7 separate regions of the Homo sapiens genome follow, and all the other regions are linked to region 1. Evidence: fine-mapped expression QTL. A gene starts in region 1. Each other region holds a variant in brackets. All regions are shown on one strand. Distances are between the middles of the regions.

Region 1 (4,066 bases):
CCTCAGCCTCTCAAGTAGGTGGGACTACAGGTGCGCACCACCATGCCCAGCTAATTTTTTGTGTTTTAGTAGAGATGGGGTTTCACCACGTTGGCTAGGATGGTCTCAATCTCCTGACCTTGTGATCCACCTGCCTCGGGCTCCCAAAGTGCTGGGATTACAGGCATGAGCCACCATGCCCGGCCGATATCTTTCTTGATGAGACATAATTTGATTCCGTCCTCTCCTGTCTTTTAGAGTTTGTAAGGGGTGCTTAAGTGATAAAAGGGGATGCAGTCTAGTCTCGGGCAGGAGAAGCGGGCCCTGTATCTGGTTATCATAAATTGTCTTGATGTTTGTTCGAAAGGGAAATAAGGCTTTGAGCTTGGGATCAGTGCTCTTCAGTCCACAGAGACATCTTGGCTGCAAGAAGCAGCAACAAGTTAGGCTCAAGGTGGAATTGTGAGGTCCTGAGAAGAGCTTGCTCTTCTGGGACAGAACTGTATTTTTCTTCTAAACTGCCCATGTTCTGGGGAGTCTTCCCGCCTTTTGGCTTCAGCAGGACCCTTGGTCATTGTTACAACCTGTGTCATCTTAGTGGAGCTGCTGCTGGTTTCTGTCTGAACCCGATGCAATGGGTCTCATACCTGTAAACTGGGCTCCAGGAAGGCAGCTTTCTCTAAGTTGGAAAATGAAGACTCAAGGTGGAGGGTGTTTCCCAAAGCCGATACCACAAGATATTAATAGGTGTTTTTTTCCTATGACAGCAGTTCTAGGATGGTCAAATAAGTGCGTCGGGTTAAACAAAGTTAAGCAGCTTTCTTTACTGCAGGACTTCTCAGGTGTTGAATTTGCTAGTAGAAACTGTGCATGAATACCCATAAGGGACTACAGGATGCAGTGTTTTCCAAGCCTTCTGACCTTTCATGTTCTGCAGACTGCACTTTGAAAAATGCTTGTTTAGACTAAGGCTAGCTGGGATCCGGTTAAAGGTGCAGAATAAAATTCCCTGAACGTGTCGGACTTAAATCCTTGGGCTGGAATCCTCCCACTGCAGTCCCCACTCTACCTCCCCTTTCCCCAAAACACTAGCAGAAAAAGTCATCTGCCCCTCCTCCTTCTGGCAGAATAGTACTAAGGGCTTGGATTTTTTTCTCATACTGTAAGTTCATTTAATTGTTTAATGAATAAATATTACCCTCCCTCTAGGTTGCTTGTAGCCTGCTGGTTGCACTGTTTATGAAACAGCTGTGAGGACAGGTGGGCCGTAATCTCTGGGTAGCTAAAGCCCAGCAGCAGCCCGAGGATCATGTGTCAACCCTGTAATACTGCTCTGTGCACACAGGAATTATGATGTGAGCTCAGTAAGACACAACCTCACGATTGGACATGCGGAGGTGACTCAGGCCCAAGTCAGGGTTACAGCTAGCCTCCCGGTAAACAACTGACCCATCCTTCCTGAGCTCTTCTCCCCAGGATTTCAACAGCACCACAGAAATAGCCATTTTGCTCATGGTTATTTCCCAGGACCACAGGATTTGCCTAAGTCACTGGGAGGCTATGTGTCTGTTCTGAGCCTTCCCACTCTCCTAAAGGGCAGATGAAGATCAGAGCTTTGCACCCTGTGATGCCATTTTAATCAACCCTGCTTGGTTTTAGAGGATTGCTCCTGTGGGTCACTTGAGGCAGGCTCCACCTTCCCCAGGAGGAGTGGCAGAGTCCAGCCAGCGCTCGGAGCTGGAGGCCCACGTGGGAGCAGTGAGCGGCTGTAAGCAGGGGAGGGTTTGGGGTGGGCTCCGGTGGGTCAGTTGGGGTGTACTCCTTTTCTGTGTGTGTGGATGGGGGTGGGGGTTCTGGTAAAGCTTATCAGGCTTCGCAGTCACCTGTGATGTGGGCTTCCTTCTGGGAAGAAAGGAAGGAGTGGGATGGGGCTGTCAGCTTTTCATCCTAGCCTGCCCCTGTCCTCTGTCCGCCTCTGTGCTGAGGCAGTTCCTGCTCCCTGAGTCTCTGTCCTTTCCTGGGAAAGGTGGAAGCAGTTCATGGTCTTTCCCTTTCAGAGGAGGAGGGGATGGAGGGGATTGTATTAGCAACTGGGATTGAAGCTCCCCCTGGCAGTTATGGGGTGCCCTTGGGAGGGCTGCTTTAGGGGGGCTTTCTGAGAAGAGGCAGGTCGGGCTGTACCTGAGACCAATCCCCTTGATAAAATGCAGCCAGGCCTGAAGCACGTTCAGAACGGAAGCAGCAAAGGTGATGATATCGCTCGTTGCTACTCAGCTTTCAGGAGGAGGCTGGGCGTTAGAGGGAGGCTGTGGCTTATCTCCTGCAGCTGGGCAGGACGGCTGAGTTTACTGTTGTAAAGAGGAAGCCGCCGCTTTAGTTTCCTCTTGTGAGGGCTGTGAAGAGGGCCAGGACACTGCATTCAGGATACCACAGCCATTTTGTTTTGGATAACTGGGATTACCTGGGGACTTCAGGGCTCTTGGAAATTTTCCACTCATATTTCATATTCACGAGAGAATTTCCAGCCCAGGCTTTTCCTGCTCTGGCTCACTGCTGCTCACAGATATGCAAAACAGAGACCTCCTACTCCAGCCGGCAGACAGGACCCAGCCAGCTGCACGCACGCACTGACTCAGCTGAGCCTCCTGGGTGGCAGGCAGCACCTCACCCGGGTGCATCACTTGAGTGGCATCTTCAGGACCAGTCATGGAGCCAGGCTCAGGTCTGTGTCGGGGCTTCTGCAAGGGGAGTCTGGCAAGAGTAGGAACCAGCTTCCTTCGTATAACGAGGGGATTTCAGTGGCACTGGGCTTCCTTTCTGGAGGGACTGTGGCACCATGAAAAGTTACTGTTTGTTGAAACTGGCAGTGTTTTAGAACTTTCTAACTTTGGGACACTTCTTCAAGTTCATCAGAGCGTGTTGCATGTAACAGTGAGATAAGCTGTATCATTGGCTGACTGATGCTGGTGAATTCACAGCTAAGCCTCCCAAGCCTGCTGGCTTCAGCTGACAAAGGGTTGGAAGCCAGGCGTGAACATGCAGCTGGAGCTGAAGCTCTGCTTGGCATCTGCAGAGTGAGCTTTCCTTGTCAGGCCTGGCCTGGCAGGTGTCTGGAGGGTCTGAGAGGAGAGACACTCTGGAGGGACGGGTTGGCAGGTGGGAGCTGTCTGCCAAGGACATCCAGAAGGCAGCAGATGTGGGGGCAGCTGCTAAGGCCTGCAGCACCCCAAGTGGGTTACTTGGTCCATACTAAGATATGGAATTAATTATTTTGTTGTGGTTGCTGTTGTTTCTTGCTTTTTTTTTTTTTTTTTTGAGAGAAGGTCTTGCTCTGTCACCCAGGCTGGAGTACGGTGGTGCCATCATGGCTCACTGCAGCCTGCACCTCCAGGACTCGAGCAATTCTCCCAACTCAGCCTTCCAAATAGCTGAGACCACAGGTGCATGCCACCACACCTGGCTGTTTTTTTTTCTATTTTTTGTAGAGATGAGGTTCTGACATATTGCACCAGGCTGATCTCGAACTCCTGGCCTCAAGCGATCCTCTTCAGCCTCCCAAATTGCTTGGATTATAGGCATGAGCCACTGCACCCGGTCTTGGAATGAATTATCTACCAACTATTTAAGACACTGGTAGTAGTTCTGCGGAAGATTTTTATGGGTTCTGTAAAACAAAAAGGGTTCTGTATGTTAATGTTACTCTATGATCCTTGATTTTAATGAGCCTTATGAATGTGAGTTGAGGGGCTGTGGAATGCAACATCTCCCAATAACTGACCACAGGACCTGTTTTACCAGCAACAGGTATCAATTTCTTATGGCATCCAGTTTGGGAAAGGTTGATTTAAGCTAAAGAGAAAGGAAGATATGTTATAGAAAGCTGTGTCCTGAAAAGTATTTTTAGTTGATTAGAGCAAGCTAAAAATGCTTTGTGCGCTGGTATGATGGCTCACACCTATAATCCTAGACCCTGGGAGGCCAAGGCAGGCGGATCACTTGAGACCAGGAGTTCAAGACCAGCCTGGCCAACATGGTGAAACCCCATCTCTACTAAAAATACAAAAATTAGCCAGGCATAGTGGTGTGT
Region 2 (4,066 bases), 770 kb before region 1:
TTAGGATTTAAAGAGAGATGGGGCTACATTTTAGATGTCATTGAATGTTTTTGCACAGAATATATGGCTAATATATGTTTATTGACTGACAGTCTGTCTTAGAATTAGTTCAGAATTGACCCTGTAAAGAGGGTAAGTCATTTAAAGTTTTTAGGTAGATATATGGCAGAGATACGGTTTTAAAATTATTCTGATGATGTAGGTTTAATGACTAAAGGTGAGAGGCTGGAGATTGGGGGACTTGTTAGTGGGGTGCTATGAAGTCTGGGTAAGTTGGTGAGTGTGGGTCAGTAGTGGTAGCTATGGAAATTAAAACAGATATGTACCCTCCCCTTGTAGAGCTTAAAATCTTGTGAGTGATACAGATGAGCAAACTGGCAATTCAAATACAGTGAGATACAGAAGGCAGAATGCAGAGGAAGGGAACCTATTTAGCTTGGGGTGAGGACATGAGGAGTTAGCTCAGAGAATGCTTCCTAGAGGAGGAGACATTTGTCACTAACTTGAAAAGGATGTATGAAATTCCCCTGTGAGAATACTATGATGAAAGATTCAGAAAGTAAAACCTTTAGAGGAACATGAAAAGTGTTGAGAGAGAGAGGAGTTGGGGAGTAAGGAGAGTTACCTGTACTCCATTACTTGTGTGGTAATGGGAAATCACTTCTCTTTGCTGGGCTTCAGTTTCCTCATTTGTAAAATGTAGGGTGGCAGACATGCTCTTTGAGGTTTAGCCTTCTAACTGAACCTTGTAGCTTGATGTGTTTACCATGGTTATATCCTGAGGAGTAGTTGTTCTGCAGCAACTCTTTGACAGGACCTGAGAGGGGAGAATGGGACCTTGTACTGGGAGGTGAGGGGAGGAGCCCTTGTTTCCCCAGCCTCACACTCTCTGCTTGGTTAGCCTGAAGGTGACAGAGCGGCTCACGCAGTAGAGACAGGAGTTGGCATTGGCTGGGGCTGAATTAGATCCAGAAGGTGGACAAACTGTATGAAAAAGAGATAGAAGAAGAGACCATAGTTTTGTTAAGGCAATGGTGATACCAAAGTCAGAATCAGGGTGGCAAACCTATTTTGGGGAGAAAAGTGATGAGATCTCATTTGGATCTTTTGGACGTGAGGCAGATTTAGAATAGAAATCTCTAGTATTGTTTAGTGATATAAACCAGAGCTTACTGGAGAGGTTAAGACCAGAAAGAGATCTATGAATCATTTGAATAGAGATGACTTAAGGTTGTCAGAATAAAATCACTTTCTTTTTTCTTTTTATAAATGTTTAGATTTATAAAATATAAAATTTGAAAAAATTTAAGTCTTTTGATTCATAAACACAGAATGTCTTGTCTTTATTTTTATTTTTATTTTTTTTTGAGACAGGGTCTTCGTCTGTTGCCCACGCAGGAGTGCAGTGACACAATCTGTGCGCACTGCAACCTCCGCCTCCCGGGTTCAAGTGATTCTCATGCCTCAGCCTCCCAAGTAGCTGGGATTACAGGCATGTGCCACCACGCCCAGCTAATTTTTATGTTTTTAGTAGATACAGGGTTTTTGCCATGTTGGCAGGCTGGTCTCAAACTCCTGGCCTGAAGTGATCACCTGCCTTGGCCTCCTAAAGTGCTGGGATTATAGGTGTGAGCCACTGTGCCTGGTCAAAAGCACTTTCTAAGAAGAAATTAAAGTAGAACTGAGGGTTGAAAATTGATCTTTGGGAAATGACCAGATTGGGAGAATGAGGGATGATGGATGTGACTGCATAAATTTACCTTTGAAGAACTTAGAAACTATTCTGTCTGGGCTGGGTAC[G/A]CTGGCGCATGCCTGTAATTCCAGCACTTGTGAGGCTGAGGCAGGTGGATGGCTTGAGCTCAGGAGTTTGAGACCAGCCTGGACAACATGGTGAAACCTGTTTCTACAAAAAATAGAAAAATTAGCTGGGTGTGATGGCAGGTGCCTGTAGTCCCAGCTGCTGGGGGTGAGGGGTGGGGGATGGTGGCTGAGGTGGGAGAATTGCTTGAGCCCAGGAGGTCGAGCCTGTGGTGAGCCCAGATCGAGCTACTGCACTCCAGCCTGAGTAACAGAGCAAGACCCTGTCTCAAAAAAAAAGAAGAAAAAGAAAAGAAAAGAAAAGAAAATGGTATGTCAGGGACCAAAAACGTCTAAGAGGAGGGGGTGATTCAGACTGCCAACTGCCAGACCTTTGGGAGAGTGACTTGGCCAGAAGGTATCTGTCCCAGCATGGGTTCTCCAGGAAGCCAATGTTAAGACACTGTTAGGAATACAAAAGTGTTACCTGTGGGGTGGGAGAGAGGAAATGAAATTGGGAAAAGGAACTGTCAAACCATCATATGGATTTGGCAAAACCAGGAGCTCTGAAGCAAAGATTGCCCCTTATGGGACTCCCACATTGAGGAAAAGTGATCCTACCACCCCGCTCTGTCACTGGGACCCTGAAAGTAGCTGGAGGCTATCAGCTTAACACAGTCCTTGTAGCTGGGTAGCAGTTACCTACTTGAGGGGGCATCTGAGTGGTGCATCTCTGTGTCTACCTCAGAATCCATTTAGAAAAGCAATTTCAAGAGATTGATAGGGATAGAAGTCATATTTTAGGGACCATGCGGGGTCAGGTTGGTGAGAAGGTGGGGCAGCCGAGGGAAACCTCACATTTGTGATTTTTTTTCATTCTTTTATTTTTAATTTTATTTTATATATTTTTGATTTCTGTATATTTTAATGACTTCAGATTTGTGATCTTTCTTAAATTAAAAAATTTTTCTTTTTGAGACAGGGTCTTACACTGTCACCCAGGCTGGAGTGCAGTGGTGCTGTTATGGCTCACTGCAACCTTGAACTCCTAGGCTCAAGTGGTCCTCCCACCTCAGCCTGCTGAGCAGTTGGGATTGCAGGTGTGCGCCACCATGCCTTGCTAATTTTTATATTTTTCATAGAGACAGGGTCTTGTTATGTTGCCCGGGCTGGTCCCAAACTCCTGACCTCAAGTGATCCTCCTGCCTCAGCCTCCCAGTGTTGAGATTATGGGCATGAGCCACTGCGTCCAGCCAGATTTGTGGTCTTTGTCACCACTTTGAATGCACACTGTGACTTCACATTTTCTCTTGGAGATGAGTGTACTAAATTAAACTTCTAAGGAGGTGATAGTCAAGGAGCTCAGAGCCCCCTCTTCTGTTATAGAGCCTTCTCTCACACCTGCTTGTTAATTCTTATTGTGTCCTTTTCTCAGAAGTCTGTACTTGAATTTTAAGAAACTGGACTTCTCTACTAGATCTCAGGCCAGACGAGTTGTGCTTGGCTAGTTCTGGTGGTGTTAAGAACTAATGGAGGCATTGTTTTTCACTCTGAAAGTGATCTGAACTAGAGATTCCAATTAAAAATTCTTCTAGAAACATGGTAGTATAGTAAAATAAATGCAAAGACCCAGATCTAGATGAAGATGGTAAAGTAGCAAAATGAAATTTAAAAAAAGAAAAAAATTCTTGGAAATTCTTAAATGGGACTAATTTAGCAAACATTTGTTGAACAGCTCTCTCATTAGGTACTTCATTAGGTTTTGGTATTCACAGATGGCTAAAATACGTATTGCACAGATGGCTAAAATACAGACTCTCTCTTTAAGGAACTTACAGAGTAGTGAGAAAGATAAAGAAGCTTGCTGGAGTTAAATCTCCTCACAAATCATTTACCTTCTTAAAAGACATTTGTGCAATATTTCACTGGGGGGCTGGACTCTCAGGAGGCTGTCCCAAATTGGGGGACTTTGTTGTCCATTAGGGTGACTTTCTTTTTTTTTTTTTTTGAGATGGAGTCTCGCTCTGTGCCGAGGCTGGAGTGCAGTAGCACCATCTCGGCCTGCCACAACCTCCATAGGGTGGCTTTTTAAAGAGGTATGGGAAAGCATGCTTTGTGGGTGGCTCAGAGGAGTTAATTTTATCAACTTTATAGTTCTACAATGATCTTTTCATTTTCTAATTTTACTGGTGCTTTCTAGCAGGAGCCTTGTTTCACCTAGTCCTGATACTGCAGCAAAATACCACAGACTAGGTAATTTATAAATAAT
Region 3 (4,066 bases), 590 kb after region 1:
CTCTTCTTCTCTAGCACAGCTAGAGTGATAACTTGGTAGGAGGACTGTGGAGGTACAGCAGGACCAGGCCTGTGGGCAGGAGAGGTGCCAGGACTGATCAGACTGGAGCTTGGCAGGGTTACTGGACCAGTTCCTGTGGTGGCTGCCAGGTACCCCAATGAAATAAGCCTGGTGCAGGCTGGCATCATCTGGTGCAGGGGCCTATGGGGAGGGGCAGCAGGCATCTCAGGAAAGCAGGGAGCCCGGAGAGGATCAGAATGGCCCTTTAATGAGCCCCTCTTGTGTGTTGGCATTGCATCTGTGTCAAGTGGGTGGTAACAGCAGAGCACAGGAGGCATATCCTGGAACCCAGAGAAAATGATGGCAAGAGCTAGGCCAGGAGCCATGCTGCAGCCTCGGAGACCGAGGCTCAGGGCACAGCCAGTTCCGGCAGATAATTGACATGCTAGGCAGGAAACAGAGGCAGAAGCCCAGTCATATGACCTAGATTAACATGATAGAGCTCAGGGGAGCCAACGAGTCTGTGAGAACACAGTGGTCCCGAGTTCTCTTGGGTCCCACCTGCTAATGGGGCTGAGACTCCCAGCCTTCTTCCCATCCTGCTCAGGGAAATCTCAAGGACTGGCCAGAGCTGACTGTGTAGCTGTTTTGCTTGAGAGCTGAGAGCCAGGAGGGGCTGGAGAAAACAGGATCTTTGGCTTTCTCCCTGGCTATAATTCACCATTTCTACTTCCCACCCAAATACTATGCTTTCTGTAGCTGGGATCTAGGTTTGAGTTTTCCTTCTTCTTACACTGCCAGCCTCTTGGCATCCATGGGCTCTTTTGATTAGCAGCCAGCAGAGTGTCTTCTAGTGGTAATGATGCTCCCAGGTTTGAAAAGTTCTTCTTTATTCCCAGGGATGAAATACTTCAAGCCCTTCATTATCTCTGTGTCGATGAAAAGAGTCAAACTCTGTGAAATATTTCAATAGATTTATTCCAGGCCAAGTATGTCACATTGCCTGTGACACAGCCCTCAGGAGATCCTGGGAACATGTGCCCAAGGTGGTTGGGGTGCAGCTTGTTTTTTTTTTTTTAATACATTTTAGGGAGGCATGAGACATCAATCAAATACATTTAAGAAATACGTTTGTTTGGTTCAGAAGGGTGGGACAACTCAAAGTGGAGGCTTCCAGGCTATAAGTAAATTCAAACATTTTCTAGTTGACAATTGGTTGAATTTGTCTAAAGGCCTGGGATCAATAGAAAGGAATGTGTGGGTTGGGATAAGAGGTTGTGGAGACCAAAATTTTACCATGCAGATGAAGCTTTTAGCTAGAAGCCTTCAGCGAGAATAGGTTGTACAATGTTTCTTATCAGACTTAAAGTCTGTGTTGACGTTAGTGCCAGAGAGGCATGATGAGGCATGTCAGACCCCCACTTTCGTTCATGGCCTGAACCAGCCTTTCAGGTTAAAATTTAAGAGCCCTGGCTGAGAAGGAAGCCCATTCAGATGGTTGGGGGCCTTTAAATTTTATTTTTGATTTATATCTGTTAAAGAAATGCTTACCTCTGTGGGGAAGCTGAGGTGGCAGAGGGATGGAGCTCTCCTGAAGTCCAGAGAAGAAGGAGGAAGAAGCATGCACATGACTCCGACCTCTAAGGAGACTGCTAAATGAAAGCATTACAAATGCAGATGGGGTAGGGGTGGAAACAGAAGTCAGTTGTGGAGAAATGATTGCACAAAGATCCAGGGTGGTATGTGGGCAGATGAGGAGATACACATTCACCACTGGGCGAATTGTTTCCGAGAATCTATGCTGAGTCCTGTGATGGGTTCTAGGGACACATAGATGAGTGAGGCACTGTTCTTGTTCTCCAGGAATCCGTAACCTAATTAGAGAGGCAGGCCAACCAATGGACAATGTTCAAACAACAGGGAAAGCAGAGAATATTATGAGAATGGAGAAGAGGGGGCCTTAGGCTCAGCCTGGGATGCAGAGTGAGGGAAGGTGGTACAAGGAAGGCCTCCTGGAAGGTCAGATGGCTGAGCTGCTTCTTAAAGGTGGGAGAGGCAGCTGGTGAAGAGGGTTGGGAAGGGCAGTCCAGGCAGGGCAACAGCATGGGTAGAGGAGTGGAGGGAAGCTTTGGACAACTGCAAGAC[A/G]CTGGGTGTCTTGGAGAATACAGCAAGAGGCAAGGAGTAGCATGGCAGGAATCAGGAGGTTGGAGATATCCAGGGGTGGGCTCTCTGGTCTTTGTCAGCCCCAAATGAGCCAGAAGTCCCCAAAGAGGCAGGAAAATTGGCCAGGCACAGAGGAGAAGGGCTCTGTGATGGAGGTAACTCAGAGTCCAGGAGAATCCAGCCTGTCAGGCTAATGTGGTCATGAGTTTGGATCAGGGGTTGACAAACTATGGCCTGCTGGTCCCATCTGGCCCACCCCTGTTTTTGTACCTAAAGTTTTATTGGAACACAGTCACGTGCATTCATTTACATGATGTCTCTGTGCTTTTGTGCAGTTATAGCAGAGACTATATGGCCCACGAAGTCCAAAATACTTACTTTCAGGGTCTTTAAAGAAAAATTTTGCCAACTTGTGGTTTAAGGCAATGACCAGCTGGATGGCAGGGTTAGGAGGCTGGGCAGCAAGTCAGCATATGTCTTTTGCAAGGGTGTGTACAAGGTGGTCTCTGCTCAGGCCAGTGTGGTTCAGGCTGGGCTTGGGTCATCTGAGCTGGCTTTAGTAGCCACTGGTTTTAGCTGGTCTGTTGAGATGCTGCGTGGAGCTCCAGAGGGCTTTGCTCTAATGGCACCTGGCTGATTGATAGAGGCCTTTCACTCAAGACCCTTCAGAGCTACCCAGCTGCCTGTGTCCTGGTAGCAGAGCAGCCTGGGCTCTCCTCAGATGAGGTTTCCTCCCCTTTCAGCAGTTCTTAAAATGGTATCTGGGTCTGGGGAAGTAAGGATCTGATTCTAGGATTTCTCTAGGGTGGACCCTCAGGTTTGTTAGGGTCAGTGGGTGAAGACCCTTACCTGCAGCATGGATTCTGGCTTCCTAATAGGCCTCATCCCTGGTCCGGCCTCTTGGAGTCATAGATTTAGTGCTGGAAGGATCCATAGAATTTTCTATTCTAGTTTGACCCCTGTTGTGAAAGTCTGTAAATTCTCTAAGATTCCAGCCCCACAACATTCCTTCCAAAAGCCATCAGCTGTAACATCTCCACTGACTTCCAGATCTTGCTCTTGTTCCAGGCAGCCCATTTCATGACTGTGAAGTTCTAGGGAAAAAAAATTATCTGTGTCTTCTTTTAGGCTGTCCCATCTGTCACTCAGGGAGCCATACAGAACACAATTCCCTTTCTCCATGGCAGCCCTCAGATTTCTGAAGAGAAAAACTGTGCACCAAGTCTTATCTCCAGGTTAGGAAGCTGCGGTTCTTTCACCTTTTTCTGGGTTCTGGGACTTCCTGGACACACAGCTGCCTGCTGATCTTCAACTCAAGTTACAGCACCCCAAACTGCCCACAACAATCTGGGGGTGTTCTGACTTGGATCCAAGGTCACCAAAGGTCAGTAGACTTTCTCTTGGGAACAATTTCTAGGAGCCATGACCTGTAATGGTGGACTCCTTTGACCTCCAGGTTGAGGCCCACATCAGGCTCACTTTTGATGAAATATGCCAGGAGCATGCACAGCTGGGGAAAATATTAGGTGCCTCAGAGAATCTGGTACTAAGGGATTGCTGGAGGACTTAATGGGATTGAAAAATAGAATTAGACGATACCTGTGTAGGATCAGATCACCTCTACAACATTTAGTCCTTGGAGGAGGGGCTTTGTTCTGCATCTTGCCTCAGTTGGACAGCAGAGAAATGGATAATCCAGAGGTGTTCTGCTACTCTGCACATCCTCAAAAGCTGACCCAAGGAACCGAGGCCTCACCTTGCATCTGGCTTTTGGGACAAAGCCAGGTAACCAGGAGGTGCACTGTCTTATGCTACCCAGGACCTAGTGACCTTCTGGTGGGCACTGGAAAAGGATTGGGATGGGAGATCTGCTGCTCTAAGCAGTCACATCAGACTTGCTTGC
Region 4 (4,066 bases), 41 kb after region 1:
ACCCTCAGTCTCTCTGAGGCCTCTCAGGTGCCTCCCAACATCTGCCTTCAGAGAGTGGGGGCCCTGTGTGCCCCTGGCCCCTTCCCCTCCCTCTGTGTACCATCAGCTCAGGGAAGGGTGAGGTGCCCAGGTGCCCAGTGCTGTGGTCTGGCTGCCTGCTCCAGGCAGTGCTGCATGTGCCAACTGCAGGAAAGAGGAGGGAAGGGTATCCACCTTGGCCAAGCTCACAGCACCTGGCCTGGCTTTCGTGTCTCTGCAGCCTGAACCTAGCTGGGTGCAGATGAGCTCCGTGTGGAGATGCTTCTGCTGTGGCCTGGTTCTGCAGACCCAAGGCCTTCCTCACCAGAGGGGGCCTCTCCTAAAGTGGAACAAGAGCTTACAGGAGCAGGCAGCCCTGGGGATTTAGATGAGTGCTTCCAGCCTGGGAGCAAGGTGGCTGGGGGAGCAACAGGACCCTGCTGGTGACGGAGAGTGAGAGTCTCCCATGTAGCTGGGATGCACTGGGGCTGACCCAAGCTCTTCTTGTGCCAGGAGGTTGCCCGGGAGCTGGAGGAGAGCAAGTACCAGTACTCAGAGCCACGGCTCTCCATCTACGGCCGCAGTCCTGAGGAGTGGCCCAACCTGGCCTACTGGTTCATCCAGCACAAGGTCTACTCTCCCAACATGCGCTGGATCATCCAGGTGCCCCGGATTTAGTAAGTGAGGTGGCCCGCTGTCTACCCTGTGCCCTACAGAGGTGACAATCTGTCCCTCATGGGCTGCTGAGTCTGCACTCCTGAGGGGTAGGGCCTGTTCTGGTGCCAGCTTACGCTTGTCCTTTCCAGGGATTTTTCCATAGAAGGAGTGATGAAAAAGATGTCTGCATGACACTAGAGCTCTTTTTTTTTTTTTTTTTTGAGACAGAGTCTCACTCTGTCACCCAGGCTCTGAGTGCAGTGGCATGATCTTGGCTCACTGCAACCTCCACCTCCCTGATTCAAGCAATTCTTTGCCTCAGCCTCCCGAGTAGCTGGGATTACAGGCACCCGCCACCACGTCTGGCCAATTTTTATATTTTTAGTAGAGATGGGGTTTCACCATCTTGGCCAGGCTGGTCTTGAACTCCTGACCTCGTGATCCACCTGCCTCAGCCTCCCAAAATGCTGGGATTACAGGTGTGAGCCACTGCATCCAGCTGACACTAGAACTCTTGATCTTTGAAAAATATAGATGTGCAAAGGCCTTGGGGGAACTACTACCCCCGCCTTCTTCTCATTGTGGGTTGAGGATGGATTGTCCTTTTGGTGAGCCCCAGGGTATGGGGAGAGCTGTAGTGGTCTACATTGCTGGCCTCTCCCTGGATGTCACTCAGACGGCTGCTGTCCTCTCCAGGCGGCTGGCCAGGGTGGAGCCCATGGCTCCAGGATGGGCTGGGGTATGTGGTTTAGGGAAACAGAGCTGAGTAACAGAATGTTTGGGTCACTGGGAATTTGAGGATTCATATCTCAGTCTCTTGGTCAGCCAGAATGCCACCATCCCATTCCTAGTGGCTTCTGGCTTGAGAAAGTGCTCTGATGGGCATGGGTAGGTGTGGAGCTTGCAAACCAAGGCAGAATATTGCAGACATTGCTGGGAGAGGAGGACAGAGGAGGGATCTGTTTTCTGGTCCCATCTGACTTGATTCTGGGTGTTTGATGGGGACACAGGGTGCCTGAGGAAGTGAC[T/C]GGGGCTGGTCTCTGACAGGGCAGCAGGCTGTTGGATCCACCTGACAAGCGAGTCTTTGCTGTCCCCCAGTGACATATTTAGGTCAAAGAAGCTGCTGCCAAACTTTGGGAAGATGCTGGAGAACATCTTCCTGCCCCTTTTCAAGGCCACTATCAACCCCCAAGATCATCGAGAGCTTCACCTCTTCCTTAAATATGTAAGTGTGGGTGGTGCCCTAGGCAGGGCTCATAGCGGCAGAGGCAGGAATGGATTCGCTGTGAGCTGGGTCAGGCTTGCTCCTGCCCTTCACGATGGTATCTTAGGTCCTGCCACCTGTGTTCCAGGCGTGGGGTCACCAGCCCCAAGAAGCTAGATTTCTAAAAAGTCCCCTTCTCCTCAGGGGCAGCTCTGGGAGTCAGTGGGTGTGGGGGGATGGGGGTGGTGGTCTTGGGGTAGGCCTTTCCCCCAGCAGGGAAGGCAACAGTGGGCAAAGACTGGGAACTCGGTTCCTGCCAGGTGGGGCTGGAAAGGCTGGATCTAGCCCCCGGCAGCACCAAGCAGCAGCCTCAGGTTTTTTTTTCGGAAATGCAAACACTTCAATTCACCTGCTTTACCTCGCAACAGAGGCCCTCACACCATGTGTGATTAAGTACAAGCCCCTAAAGTGTATTTCCCTTCCGGATCCAGTTGTAGGAGAAGGAGAGGAGCAGTCTGGGAGAGGCTTAACCAGGGAGGGAGGCGGAGGGGGCGGGAGCCGGTCCCACCCTCCGGATGCCTGGGATCGAGGGGGTATCAGATGGTGATACAGGCCAGTGCCTGGTGATGGATGACTTTCTACAGGGAGAGGCACAGCGGGGAGCCCGAGGGCTGGGGCACGGGGAAAGAATTGAGTCTGTGTGCCCAGAAAGTGACTGGACAAGCTGAGGGACATCATCAAATTTATGTTTTAGACAAACATATTCTGGCTGTTGTGTGGAGTTGGCCCAGAAGAGAAGGTAGCTGGAGGTGGGGGCAGGGGTGAGAGTCAGGGGCCTGCCTGGAGACAGGAGGGGAGCTTGACCCAGCGGAAATAGCTCACACTCGTGCGTGCTTCTGCCTGGCCTGGTCAGACGCCACAACGTGATCTCACCTAAGCCTCACAATTACCCCGTTACTATCACCATTTTGTTGTTAACAGTAAGCGGAATTATTATGTGCTTGGTGCGTGTTGGACACGGTGTTGAGTGCTCTCCCTGGATTATCTCATTTAATCCTCACCAAAGCCCTGTGAAGCTGCTAGCTTCAATTGACACACAAGGAAATTAAAACAGATCATAAAGCTAAAAGTGGCAGAGCTGGAATGCGTTTCCAGGCAGGCTGACTCCAGCGATGTACCCTGAACCCCTATTCTATGTTGCCTCCCAAGTGAGAATAGTAAGGTGCACAGCAGCTACCAGCTTGCGTCTCTGAGGTGTGGCAGCGCAGGGACTCTGCACAAAGTGTGGGGCTTGGTGAGAAGCGGTGGGCGTACACCTGGCAGGACCTGGACAGAGACTGAAGGAGGCACTGGGGGGAGTCTAGGATGCCTCCCAGGTGCCTGGCTTTGCAGGAGCATGGATGATGTGCTGTCCGAAGGTTGCTGCCAGCAATGGAGGAAGAGCAGGTATGGGGAGGAGGAGGAAGAGCAGGAGGAGGAGACAACGCATTTTGCACCCGAGGCTGTGGGAGATGCAGTGGTGAGGCCCTGCTTCAGCTGGATAGAGCTCTGAAGAGGGGCTGAAATTATCCGCATGCCAGGCCCCAGAAAGTTCGGGTGAAGTATGGAGCTAGTGAGCACAGAGCAGAGCTCAAGGTCCTCCCTGGCCCCCCAAACCCGTCTAGGGAGTGCTTAGGGTCATAGCAGGGACCCTGTCATTTCCTTTGACACACAGGGCTCTGTGACACGGAAGATTCTGGCCAAGCTGCCTTGCTCCTCTGGGCCTTTGCTGCCCCCATAGGAACAGGAGAGGCCAGCAGACCTGGCTGGGGTCTGGGGCGTGGGCTGGGAGCCCTCCAGTTTGGGCCAGTTGTGGATTAAGGGGGACAGTCTCTTTCTCCCATCTGCTATTCAGAGGCCCCTTTGCAAAGCACTGCCGTGGCCTGGTAGCAAGCCTCCCCTGTGCGCTGAGAGCCCGTACCCTCCATGCATGTGTTCTTGGTTGGGGATGACCCCTGGGATCAGCCAGAAGGCTCCAGTGACTCAGGAGCAGCCCCCCAGGGGTCCCAGCCAAGGTAGAACTGCAGTGGAAGGGTGGGGGTTTCCTGAGGCTACTCAGGCCCATCTCAGAGGGCAGCTCCCAGTGGGGATTGGAGAGCAGAGCTGCCTCCCAGGAGCCATGGCTTAGCCCAGCAAGGACCCTCTTAT
Region 5 (4,066 bases), 38 kb before region 1:
TTATTGATGCCAGTCCCTCTTCTCTAGGGGACTGTGACAGCTGTAGCCAGATGTGTCCAGGAGATTATCTCTGTCCTGATTCTGTCAGCATCCTCTTCATTTATTGTCTGGTTTTGCTTCTAAGTCTTCTTCTGCATCTCAAGCTGTCTGCATGCCATACTGTCTGCATTGAAATGATTTGCTTGCTTAAAATGAGTCTTGGCCAGGTGCAGTGGCTCACGCCTGTAATCCCAGCACTTCGGAGGCCAAGGACTCCTGAGGTCAAGAGTTCGAGAGAAGCCTGGCCAACATGGTGAAACCTCATCTCTACTAAAAATACAAAATTAGCCAAGTGTGGTGGCACATACCTGTAATCCCAGCTGAGACAGGAGAATCGCTTGAACCCGGGAGGCAGAGGCTGCCGTGAGCCGAGGTGCCACTGCACTTCAGCCTGGGCAAGACAGAGGGAGACTCTGTCTCAAAAAAAAAATGGGTCTTAATATCAATAGTGGGGAATTCTCAGTCTCTCCATCAGCAGGTGCTGAAAGCTCACAATAAAGGAGAAAATTTTCAATAGCTGTTTTTTTTTTTAAGAGATGGGGTCTTGTTCTGTTACCCAGGCCAGATGCAGTAGTGTGGTGATCATGGCTCACTGCAGCTTCAACCTCCCTGGGTCAAGTGATCTTCCCGCGTCAGCCTCCCAAGTAGCTAGGACTACAGGTGTGTGCCACCAGACCCAGGTGATTTTTAATATTTTATAGACATCTTGCTATGTTGCTCAGGCTGGTCTCAAACTCCTGGACTCAAGCAATCCCGCCATCTTAGCCTCCTGAGTTGCTGGGATTATAGGCGTGAGCCACTGCTCCCGGCCCAGTAGTCATGTTTTTGAGGAAGTTTATTTTTATCCAGTATGTTTGGCTCTGCATGGGTTCCTTAAGATACTAGGGACTGTCTTTGGGTCACAAAGCCAGCATGACACTAACATGGGTCTCAATATCCTTTGCTTGATAGCTTTGGACCTGAACATCACCTGACAGCTCCACACACTGTGTTCTGGCTTGTTCCTAATCCTGCCAGTTCCTGACCTGCCATTGTTCCATGTTTGGCTTCACCTTGTCTTTTGCACCTGACATTTGGTCCGTGCTGCTGGCTCTATTCCACCTATGGCAACCTGAATAAAAACTCTCTTTCCAGCCTTGTTTCTAAAGCTCTTCCTTGGCCCAGATCCCCCTAGGTGGCTTCTACCAGCCTTGTCCAGTTGAGGAGCATGGCCTAGACACCTGTGAGGGTCTCTGCCTGCCTCCAGCTGTGCCCAGGATTGGCTTCTCCTCAGCTGTGCCTCATGCTGGGCCACATCATGGGAGCAGGCTGGTCAGCAGGGGTGGATGCTGACCTACAAAGGGCTCCTTACTGCCAAAAGTCATTGATTCCCCATCCTTCTGGTCTACCATTAAACATCTGTAGCCACTTAGGGTTTTGACTTTTAACTATTTCTTGACCACATACCTCCATTACCCTCCAGAGAGCACCCTTTTAGAAATAAATGTAATAGTTACTACATTTGTTCAATGATTTACAGTCAACAGAGCACTTTAGTATATTCACATGTATTATCTCATTTCCATACTTTCTTTTTTTAAGCAAACATAAAATAATTTTATCAGATACAACAAAAATTAAAACATAACAAAAGTATCACATATAATGTTATATTCCCATTTAAATATAACATAGAAAAATACTACAAAATAAGAAATACAAAACCAAAACCTAGATAAGATTTTATTTATTATGATGGGTGTGCTTGCCTGTTCATAAGTTCATTCCAGTCTGGAACACAGGAAGATAATGCTACCCACATAGCTGCTGCACCATTTGATCCATTCCTTTCTGTTGCTTTTAACTGAGTTAAGATAGAAAACCCTAGTTCACACAAACTAGTTGTTGTGAATGGTAGTAATAGTAGGACACTCTTTCTACTTAACAAAGGAAAGTCTTCCTTTACCTTAATTCAAAATGCTGATAAATTTAAGGTCTCATAATCATTCTTCAATGTATATGAAGAACTAAACTAAGATAATTCATTCTCTTCTTCAGGCACCAGTTATTAACTAAGCCCAGTTATTGATTCTGGGTTTCAAAAAGCAAACTGATTGTTTTTTTTTTTTTTTGAGACGGTCGCCAGGCTGGACTGCAGTGGCACGATCTCGGCTCACTGCAACCTCTGCCTCC[T/C]AGGTTCAAGTGATTCACCTGCCTCAGCCTTCCAAGTAGCTGGGACTAGAGGCGCACACCACTACACCCAGCTAATTTTTGTATTTTTAGTAGAGACGGGGTTTCACCATGTTGGCCAGGATGGTCTTGATCTCCTGAGCTCGTGATCTGCCCGCCTCAGCCTCCCACAGTGCTGGGATTACAGGCGTGAGCCAGGGCACCTTGCCGCAAGCGGATCTTTTACCCAACTATTTTCCCTGAATGTTTCAAATTTTTCTTCTGGAAAGAAATGGTTAAAAATTTGAGATAGAGAAGTGAGATTCAACAATGTCTCTAATTTTATTTCTTTCAAAATGTTTCCATTAATAATATTCTCTTCAATATGTTGCAAAAATCTTGGAAACGTAGTAGCTAGGACAGTTACTTGTAAGTCTTGCTTGCCATAACAATAATGTCTTTCGAAATCCCTGGATATGTCTGACATGTTGGAATACATCACTGTTTTTCCCCCGTGGTTTTAAATTCAGTTTATTAAGAATACCAAAAATACCAGTTAAATATGCCAATTTTTTTATCCAAATGTCATCTTCAAAAATATTTGCCAAATGAGATTTTTTTCAATGAGAAAAAAAGTCAATCTGATTCCTGAGCTCATAAACCCTGCTTAGTATTTTCCCTTGAGACAACCAACGAACTTTGGTATGACACAGAAAGTGGGTATGGTTAGTTCCAATCTCTGAACAAAACGTTTCAAGAAGCTGGTTATTCAGTGAGTTTCCTTTAATAAAACTGACAACTTCACTGCATTTTTCAGTACTTCCATGAGATACTGTGGAATTTCTCTGGATGCTAAACCTTCATGATGTATAAAACAATGATTCCACACAGTACAACTATTAGTCACTTCTAGTAATTTTTTAATGACTCTGCTGTGTTTTCCAGTTACTTTTGCTGTGACGTCACCTGCAATTCCTTTACAGTTTTTCCAGTTTAATTTATATTGACCAACTCTGTGCCTTTCTAATCCTGTAAACATATCTAATCTACTTGGGTATGAGGTTAAACTTAAAAAACACAAAAGACCCTCCATAAAATCATCTTTCCACGCATATCGGACATAAACTGAATGTCTTGTGCAGCTGCCAATATCATCAGTGCTTTCATCACACTGCTTTGCAAAATCTATACCAGACTGTTATGGAGTAATAAGCATTGTTTCTAAACGTTCTGCAATACTACAAATCCAAAGAGATAATTGTGTTATCATTAGATATAGTTTTTAATTTATCAGCTAATTTCTCATCAAAAATCATATGCATTGTATCCAAACATGCTGGAAGAATAATTTTTTCAGCAGCTGTGTTAGCTATGTTCTTTTTGCCACATGATATGCAACTAAATATGATGATACGGCTCTCTCACTAACAGTAGTAGAACAACTAAGAAATTGTGTTGATCATTTTATGTCTTCTTTCTTTCTTCGAAAATATTCAAGAGGCTTATCAATAAGTTCAGCATGCTGAATTTCTAAGTGCCTTTTTAATTTAGGTTTTAAGCTTTCATTTGCAAGAATATTATTACAAATAACACACTGAGGTCTGTCATTTTCAGTGGGCTTTTCACATTTGATAAAGCCATATTTTAAGTAATCATAATAGCGTCTTGCACTTAAGTTTTTCTTTTTGAAATGAGGCTCAAATGAAGTTTCAGTTTGCAGATTAGAGTCTGTATTTTTCTCAGTATTGTCACTATTCACACTTCCAAATTCAACAGATGAACTTCAGCATGCTTCTGTATATTTCATTTCATGATTCCTCTTTCTTTTAATAAAGAAATTATGCATTTAATAGCAATTTTTTCCAGTTTGATTAAAATG
Region 6 (4,066 bases), 51 kb after region 1:
TCCAGGCACTGGGGATCTGTGATGAACATAGCAGGCAGGGCCTCTGAGACACTCAGGCACAGGGAGAGAAGACGCGGCAGCCTCCTGTGTTTTCATGGCTGCTTCCTCACCCTTCTCAGACCTCTACGCCTCCTTGGAGAGGCCTTCCCTGATCGCCCATTCTAAAATAGCCACACACTTGCTATTATTCTCTATCCCCTTAATCAGTTTTTCTCCATACCATTTATTCCTGCTGATGTTTAGTTATGTGTTTTTCTGTCTTTCCCTCTAGCATGTAAGCTCTGTGAGGGCAGAGGTTTGTTCAGAATTATATCCCCGGGCCCTAGATAGTCCCTGGCACATAGCAGGCGCTCAATATTTCTTGAATAGATGAACAGTATCTAGACTGAATAAAAATCTAGACTATGGGACTCAGACATCTGTCATTTTTTAAAAAGCCTGATGAGGAGCTGGCACTGAGACCCATGTTCTGATGTACGTTAGGTCCCCCGACACCTCCCTGGGTGATGTCACTGGTTGGGAAGAGGTTGCATTAGGGGCTGTGCTCGTCGGATGATGATGCAGCAGAGTTAAAGGCTTAAGATTCTTTTCATGCGCAGTGTGGTGCCTTGGATTGGCCCTCCCCAGGAACATTGTCCTTGTCAGCTCTCAGGGGCTTCTTAATTAGAGTCTTACCTCCTTCCCCTTTGCCTTTCCCATCCCCAGCAGCTGCTGCAGACCTTATCTTTCCTCTCTGATCAAGGAAAGCACAGCCAGGAATGAAGGGCTGTCTGAGGATGACTGAGGTTGTCAGGGTGACATCCTTGAGGACACAGAGGCCAGCAGGAATTTTAAGAGTTCTGTGGGGATAAGATGTCCTGACCAAAGATCTGCTTCAGGGGGACTAGTCTGACTTGCTGTGACTGATGTCAAAGCTGCCCACATGGCTATAGAAAGTGAATCAAAAGTATATAGTTTCATTTGTATTTCTCTTGGTCCACAGGAAAAGCAAAAGTTTCTGGGACAAAATTATTATAAAGAAGGACCTGAAGGAAATGATATTCGAAAGACAAATGTGGCTCAGATCCGGATGGCATTCCGATATGAGACCTTATGCAATGAGCTCAGCTTCCTGTCTGATGCTATGAAATCAGAAGAGATCACCGCCTTGACCAACTAGGTCCAGCATTTGACATGCATTTTAACTTTTTGGTTCAATTTCAAGTCTGCTGTGGCTAATAGTGGTCAAGATTCCGAACTAGGACTTTCCTCTGTGAAGAGGATGCCTCTGAAGAAATTTTAAACTGGTGATTTTGGTTGCACTGCTCACTTTAAGAGTTAACATGCTCACTTGTTAGTATTTCTGAGTAACAAGATGGTGACTTCTCCTTGGGGATCTGGGAGCTGAGCACTTGTCTATACTTGTTCCTAATTTTCCAAGTATTTCTCTTGAAACTGCCAGTGCCTGAACTGTTGGGGCCAGGATTTTCCCTGGTCAGATGCCAAGTAACATGTGGTTTTCTGCCATACTTTTCTCCATTGGCCCAGGTAGGCTAATTGGTAGTTGTTCATTTCAGCCTCTGGATGGCTGGCTGCCTTAAACACAATCAATTTCAAAGCTCCATTTCATAAAGGGGCTACTTTGAAGGAGTTAAGATGGAAGACTTCCTTCTTGACAAATTGTGTTTTTAGTGAATTTCTTAAACCGTTTTATTTAGCCCTCCTTCCCTCTTTCTAGTTGGAAGCCAAATGTACTCATGAAAACAGCCACTCCTATTCTGAGTCTTGGTTTCTTCACCTAGAAAGTGAGGGTTTGGACTAGATGAGTGGCTTTCAGGGTGTTCTGTGAATCTCCTCATGAATACTTTAGGGTAGGGGAGGGAAGGGAGTGAGTGATGCTCAGGGGCTGTCAAAGTGACTGCGTTCATCAGTTTTACACTGGGGCTGCTACATAATATTTTCATTTGAACGAAGAACTTCAAAAAGCACAGGACTAGATGATCTCTGTTCCTTTTGGCTCTAATATGCTACAACTGTAGGCCAATTATCACTTTACCAATTAAGAGTTAGGCCAGATAAGTGAAATTTAACTTAAGGGCACACAGCTAATAAGTAATAGGCCTAAACTGGATTTCCTTATTCCAAATCCTGTCTTTTCCCCACTATTCCATTAGACCCCACAAATGTTAGTTGTGTGTGTGTGTGTGTGTGTTTTTAATCACTGTAACCGGATGCATTTTTTTAAGGCA[A/G]AATTTCTCCCTTATCTACTATGATGACTTCAGAAGATACAATGGTCCCAGGGGCCAAGTAGAAAGCATTTTTAAAGATTAATCTGAATTAAGCTTTATCAGTGTACTCTTTATCTGTGTTACTAGTGCCTGGTATGTAGTAGGTGCTCAATAAATGCATATTGAATAACTAAGTGAATTTCTTTTGGCAACTTTTTAAGGACATGTGCTCTTAGTACTTAAGAGGCTGCTCAAGGACCTTCCTATCTATTTCTGTGGTCAAATTCAGACTACAGGAGGTCTTTTTGAATCATTATAGTTAGAAGAAGAATCCAGTTTCTGCCTGTGAACTTATTTGACTTTAGATTGTCTCATCTTGTGACTTTATAATGCCTGTCCCCTCCACTGGTCAATTCAGCATATGGAAGTATAAATGCAGTCTTTTTACTAGGCAGATATATATGCTATCTTACAGCTAATTATGAAATTGAATGAAAATCCATTGTTATCTTAGGGATTAGTTTTGAAAAGCCCCCGTTTATATACATTTGCCCTAACATAGGAAGTATTGTGTAGTTTCTCATTGTCATTTTATCTGTATCAAGTATCTTTTTTTAAATTGTTAAATAAAGTCAGCTAGGACTGTGGCTCAATAGTTTAAAACTATTTAAAGATAATCATATTTAAAGCAAATGTTAAAGATTTTTACTCTTAAGATTGGGCACCATGAAAAGCTATCAATAATAATAGCTAATTTATCTTTTACTAAGACTCCGACATGAATGACATTCACTAGGAAAACTCAAAATTTTCAAACTGAAGCTCACCAGACCCAGAAGATAAATCTTCCTTTGTTATTTTCTCTAACTTCTACCCTGTTATAGTTCATGAGCAAAGCTATACATGTTCCTTTCCTTTTCCCGGGGTATTATTTTAGTCTGTCCAGCTAACACCTTGTTGATATGGACTCTAGAATAGGATTGCGCTGTTATCCCTAGGGTAACTTGTTCCGTTGGTCAAGTTATTGGATCAATTAAACGTGGTAATTCGCTTTGACTGGTGAAGTCTCGGCATGTGTTGCTCGGAGGTCGGATTGTGCTCCGAGGTCGCCCCAACCGAAATTTTTCACGCAGGTTTGATAGTTTAGGGCCTGTGGACTTGTTAAGTGTTGTTTGCGTTAATGAATTAAAGCTCCATAGGGTCTTCTCGTCTTGTTATACTATGCCCGCCTCTTCACGGGCAGGTCAATTTCACTGGTTGAAAGTAAGAGACAGCTGAACCCTCGTGGAGCCATTCATACAAGTCCCTATTTAAGGAACAAGTGATTATGCTACCTTTGCACAGTTAGGGTACCGCGGCCGTTAAACGCATGTCACTGGGCAGGCGGTGCCTCTAATACTGAGAATGCTAGAGGTGATGTTTTTGGTAAACAGGCGGGGTAAGATTTGCCGAGTTCCTTTTACTTTTTTTAACCTTTCCTTGTGGGCATGCCTGTGTTGGGTTAACAGTGGGGGTAATAATGGCTTGTTGGTTGGTTATAGATATTGGGCTGTTAATTGTCAGTTTAATATTTTGGTCTGATGTAGGCTTATGCGGAGGAGAATGTTTTCATGTTACTTATACTAACATTAGCTCTTCTATAGGGTAATAGATTGGTCCAATTGGGTGCAAGGAGTTCAGTTATGTGTTTGGGATTTTTTAGATGACAGGTGTCGAGCTTGAACGCTTTCTTAATTGGTGGCTGCTTTTAGGCCTACTGTGGGTATTAAATTTTTTACTCTCTTTACAAGGTTTTTTCCTAGTGTCCAAAGAGCTGTTCCTCTTTGGACTAACAGTTAAATTTACAGGGGGATTTGGAG
Region 7 (4,066 bases), 160 kb after region 1:
AAAGAACAAAGCTGGAGGCATCATGCTGTCTGACTTCAAACTATACTACAAGGCTACAGTAACCAAAACAGCATGGTACTGGTACCAAAACAGAGATATAGACCAATGGAACAGAACAAAGCCCTCAGAAATAATACCACACATCTACAACCATCTGATCTTTGACAAACCTGACAAAAACAAGAAATGGGGAAAGGAGTCCTATTTAATAAATGGTGCTGGGAAAACTGGCTAGCCATATGTAGAAAGCTGAAACTGGATTCCTTCCTTACACCTTATACAAAAATTAATTCAAGATCAATTAAGGACTTCAATGTTAGACCTAAAACCTAAAAACCCTAGAAGAAAACCTAGGCAATACCATTCAGGACATAGGCATGGGCAAGGACTTCATGTCTAAAACACCAAAAGCAATGGCAACAAAAGCCAAAATTGACAAATGGGATCTAATTAAAGAGCTTCTGCACAGCAAAAGAAACTACCATCAGAGTGAACAGGCAACCTACAGAACAGGAGAAAATTTTTGCAATCTACTCATCTGACAAAGGGCTAATATCCAGAATCTACAAAGAACTCAAACAAATTTACAGGAAAAAAACAACCCCATCAAAAAGTGGGCAAAGGATATGAACAGACACTTCTCAAAAGAAGACATTTATGCAGCCAACAGACACATGGAAAAATGCTCATTATCACTGGCCATCAGAGAAATGCAAATCAAAACCACAATGAGATACCATCTCACCCCAGTTAGAATGGCGATCATTAAAAAGTCAGGAAACAACAGGTGCTGGAGAGGATATGGAGAAATAGGAACACTTTTACACTGTTGGTGGGACTATGAACTGGTTCAACCATTGTGGAAGACAGTGTGGCGATTCCTCAAGGATCTAGAAGTAGAAATACCATTTGACCCAGCCATCCCATTACTGGATATATACCCAAAGGATTATAAATCATGCTGTTATAAAGACACATGCACACGTATGTTTATTGCAGCACTATTCACAATAGCAAAGACTTGGAACCAACCCAAATGTCCATCAATGATAGACTGGATTAAGAAAATGTGGCACATATACACCATGGAATACTATGCACCCATAAAAAAGGATGAGTTCATGTCCTTTGTAGGGACATGGATGAAGCTGGAAACCATCATTCTCAGCAAACTATCGCAGGGACAAAAAACCAAACACCGCATGTTCTCACTCATAGGCGGGAATTGAACAATGAGAACACTTGGACACAGGAAGGGGAACATCACACACCGGGGCCTGTGGTGGGGTCCGGGGGATGGGGGAGGGATAGCATTAGCAGATATACCTAATGTAAATGACGAGTTAATGGGTGCAGCACACCAACATGGCACATGTATACATATGTAACAAACTTGCACGTTGTGCACATGTACCTTAGAACTTAAAGTATAATAATAAAAAAAAGTATATTACTAAGTGAAAAAAGCAAGGTTTGGAACACCTTGTATAATATACTACGATTTATGTTTAAAAAATCCACTTTTGGCTGGGCGCGGTGGCTCTCGCCTGTAATCTCAGCCCTTTGGGAGGCCGAGGCGGGCGGATCACGAGGTCAGGACATCGAGACCATCCTGGCTAACGTGGTGAAACCCTAGCTCTACTAAAAATACAAAAAATTAGCCCGGCGTGGTGGCGAGCGCCTGTAGTCCCGGCCGAGGAAGGAGAGCGGCGTGAATCCGGGAGGTGGAGCTTGCAGTGAGCTGAGATGGCACCACTGCACTCCAGCCTGGGTGACAGTGAGACTCCATCT[CA/C]AAAAAAAAAAAAAAGAAAAATCCACTTTTACATATATGTCTATATTTAGAAATGCTTGGAATATATCTAGAAGTTACACTAAAACATAGTGACAGTGGTTGCCTCTGCTACTGGGGGACAGAGATGTAATGAGACTTACTTTTTCCTATGTCTCATTTTGTACTTTTTGAATTTTGTACTATGGACATGATTATTTATAAAAATTGAATTAAAACTCATACCAAAGCAAAAACAAAAAACAAAAAACAAAAAACAAAAAACTACCTCAGTAACTCCAAACCCTTTATGCATTTCATAATACATTTTTTATACTTTTAGAAACCAATTTCTCTTCTTTGGAGGAAGCAGTTACCAAAATTCAGCAAGTCTTATAGTTTCACTTCAAGTTCAATTAAATTCTAATAGTTTTAATTTCAAACAAGTATATCTAGTATAATCTCCCTCTTTTTCCCTTCCTCCTTCTGTATTAGTGGGGAAGGAGGTGTTTAGTGTAAGCTATTTTTACTTTCTTCCTTGTATTTTTCACTATTGGTTGAATTTTTAGATATGAACATAAGCCACTTTCAACAAAAAGTAATAAATTTATTTTCAAATATATCTCCCAGGACTAGCTCATTCCAATGAAAATATTTGTTTCTGACCATGTCAGGGACTTGGAAAAATTACTTTTGGAGCTCTGAAAGATGCTCTGAGTCCCAGGATGGTTCCTAAAAGTCAAAGCTGCTAGTTGGGGATAAACTTTTTTTTACCTCTTTCTTCTCAGGGAGGCCTCTTTCCTGCCCAAGACCTGAGGCTCTGAGTCTAGACTGGGGGTTTTGGAAGGACTGTCCATTCGATGTACTTCTCTGCCTCAGCCTACGTGTCCCTCAAAATCCAGGTCCAGATAGCCAACTACCTTCTAGACGTTGCCACCTGGTTAAGGAGAATAAAAATCATTTCAAGAGCCACCATTTACTGAACATCAACTATGCAGTAGATACACTTTGTCATTTCTTACAATAGTACTGCAAATAAAAAATAGCTTAAACACCTCCTTCCCCACAAATACAGAAGGAGCAAGGGAAAAAGAGGGAGATTATACTAGATATACTTTTTTGAAATTAAAAGTATTAGAGTTTAATTGAACTTGAAGTGAAGTGAAACTGTAGGACCTGCTGAATTTTGGTAATTGCTTCCTCCAAAGAAGAGAAATTGGTTTCTGAAAGTACAAAGAATGTATTATGAAATGCATTTTCTGGAGAAACTGAAGCTCAGCTGAGTTAAAGTGATTTACTAGGGTCCAGCTTATCAGCAGTACAGCCAGAATGCAAAACCAGGTTTGTCTGTTGCATTCAAGCTGCTTTCCGTGGGCATTTGACATGTCCAAACTCAAATTCACTGTCTTCCTTCTCAAGCAAACTCCTCCTCCTGTCTCACAATTCATCACCCTCACAACCATGCAGACAGGTGCCTGGTGGTATTCCTGGTCTGCCTCTCAACTCCATCTCCTCATCAAGTCCTGACAAGCTGATCTCCAATAGCTGTCAAACTATCCTGTCCACATTTACTACCACCTCATTACCTCTCACCAGGCTATTTCCCTATCCTTTTACCTGGTGTCTCCCTGTCTCTAGCCTCTGCTGTTTCAGGCCAGCTCTCACAATCTGTCCAGAAGAATTATTCTAAAATATAGATTTGATCCTGATGCTTCCTTACCTGCAGGCTTCTCTTTCCAAAGTGTCCTAAATGAAATTCAAACTCATTAATTGGCCTTCAAAGCCTTCAATTTCCTTGGTCTCAGCCCACTGTTCCCACCTTGTTGCCCATCTCTCTGGGACGTGTAGCTCACACTTAGTTCACATGACATTCCTTCTGTTCCTGAAGTATGCCAAGCACTAGAAGATGCCTACATGCTTTTGCTTCTGCTGTCCCCCTGCTTGGGATGACTTTCTCTTCCCCAGCTCAAGGTGGCTCCTCCTGAAAACCTTCCCTGACTCAACCCCACTGAGCTAGCTGCTTCTTCCTCTTTGTTCCCAGGTACTTTATGGCCTGTTAAAGTTTTATCACAATTTATCGTAGTGACTTTGTCTATTCTTATGTTTCCTCTCCTAGACAGTGAGCTTATTCGTTCATACATTTGTTTAATGTTTATTGAGTGTTTACTATGTCCCTGGCAATGAGCTGGGAGCTAAGGATACAATGCTAAGCAAAACTGACATGCCACATCCTCTGGAGCTCATTATTCAGGGGAACAGAGATTAATCAGAGAAACATCCAAACAATTTCACACTGAG

Alleles and levels. Positions count from the first base shown, and alleles are read on the strand shown. Sizes are in standard deviations (SD) of each study's normalised expression. Not every link is listed here.
For the expression in lymphoblastoid cells of the gene that starts at base 1,563 in region 1, C is the low allele of the variant in region 7 and CA is the other (large effect, 2.0 SD a copy in TwinsUK).

The links.
Region 2: its variant is fine-mapped to the expression of AMPD3 in monocytes (Quach 2016, PIP 0.95).
Region 3: its variant is fine-mapped to the expression of AMPD3 in cerebellar hemisphere (GTEx, PIP above 0.99).
Region 4: its variant is fine-mapped to the expression of AMPD3 in whole blood (TOPMed, PIP above 0.99). The same link has a PIP of 0.9 or more in prefrontal cortex.
Region 5: its variant is fine-mapped to the expression of AMPD3 in atrial appendage (GTEx, PIP above 0.99).
Region 6: its variant is fine-mapped to the expression of AMPD3 in whole blood (INTERVAL, PIP above 0.99).
Region 7: its variant is fine-mapped to the expression of AMPD3 in lymphoblastoid cells (TwinsUK, PIP 0.95).

Annotation. Positions count from the first base shown.
Region 1 is chr11:10,453,702-10,457,767 of GRCh38, forward strand. AMPD3 (adenosine monophosphate deaminase 3) reads left to right here and starts at 1,563. Exons shown (of 15, transcript NM_001025389.2): 1 at 1,563-1,747. RefSeq lists an enhancer at 2,438-2,487.
Region 2 is chr11:9,681,328-9,685,393 of GRCh38, forward strand. All of the region lies in intron 1 of SWAP70 (switching B cell complex subunit SWAP70), which reads left to right. Among named protein-coding and RNA genes, the nearest start is that of SWAP70, 19 kb to the left of the region's middle. The variant G/A (reference allele first, on the strand shown) is at 1,801.
Region 3 is chr11:11,045,240-11,049,305 of GRCh38, forward strand. No RefSeq gene overlaps it. Among named protein-coding and RNA genes, the nearest start is that of LINC02752, 68 kb to the right of the region's middle. The variant A/G (reference allele first, on the strand shown) is at 2,146.
Region 4 is chr11:10,495,039-10,499,104 of GRCh38, forward strand. It overlaps AMPD3 (adenosine monophosphate deaminase 3), which reads left to right. Exons shown (of 15, transcript NM_001025389.2): 9 at 532-695; 10 at 1,774-1,900. Among named protein-coding and RNA genes, the nearest start is that of MIR4485, 11 kb to the right of the region's middle. The variant T/C (reference allele first, on the strand shown) is at 1,704.
Region 5 is chr11:10,415,786-10,419,851 of GRCh38, forward strand. The region is part of intron 3 of CAND1.11 (a long non-coding RNA gene); the gene reads left to right. Among named protein-coding and RNA genes, the nearest start is that of AMPD3, 37 kb to the right of the region's middle. RefSeq lists a silencer at 276-489. The variant T/C (reference allele first, on the strand shown) is at 2,212.
Region 6 is chr11:10,504,726-10,508,791 of GRCh38, forward strand. AMPD3 (adenosine monophosphate deaminase 3) reads left to right here. Exons shown (of 15, transcript NM_001025389.2): 15 at 983-2,854. The coding sequence ends at 1,159. It overlaps MIR4485 (microRNA 4485), which reads right to left and starts at 3,601; the gene lies at 3,545-3,601. It also overlaps the pseudogene MTRNR2L8. The variant A/G (reference allele first, on the strand shown) is at 2,229.
Region 7 is chr11:10,614,499-10,618,564 of GRCh38, forward strand. All of the region lies in intron 10 of IRAG1 (inositol 1,4,5-triphosphate receptor associated 1), which reads right to left. Among named protein-coding and RNA genes, the nearest start is that of LYVE1, 48 kb to the left of the region's middle. RefSeq lists a silencer at 3,020-3,220. The variant CA/C (reference allele first, on the strand shown) is at 1,792.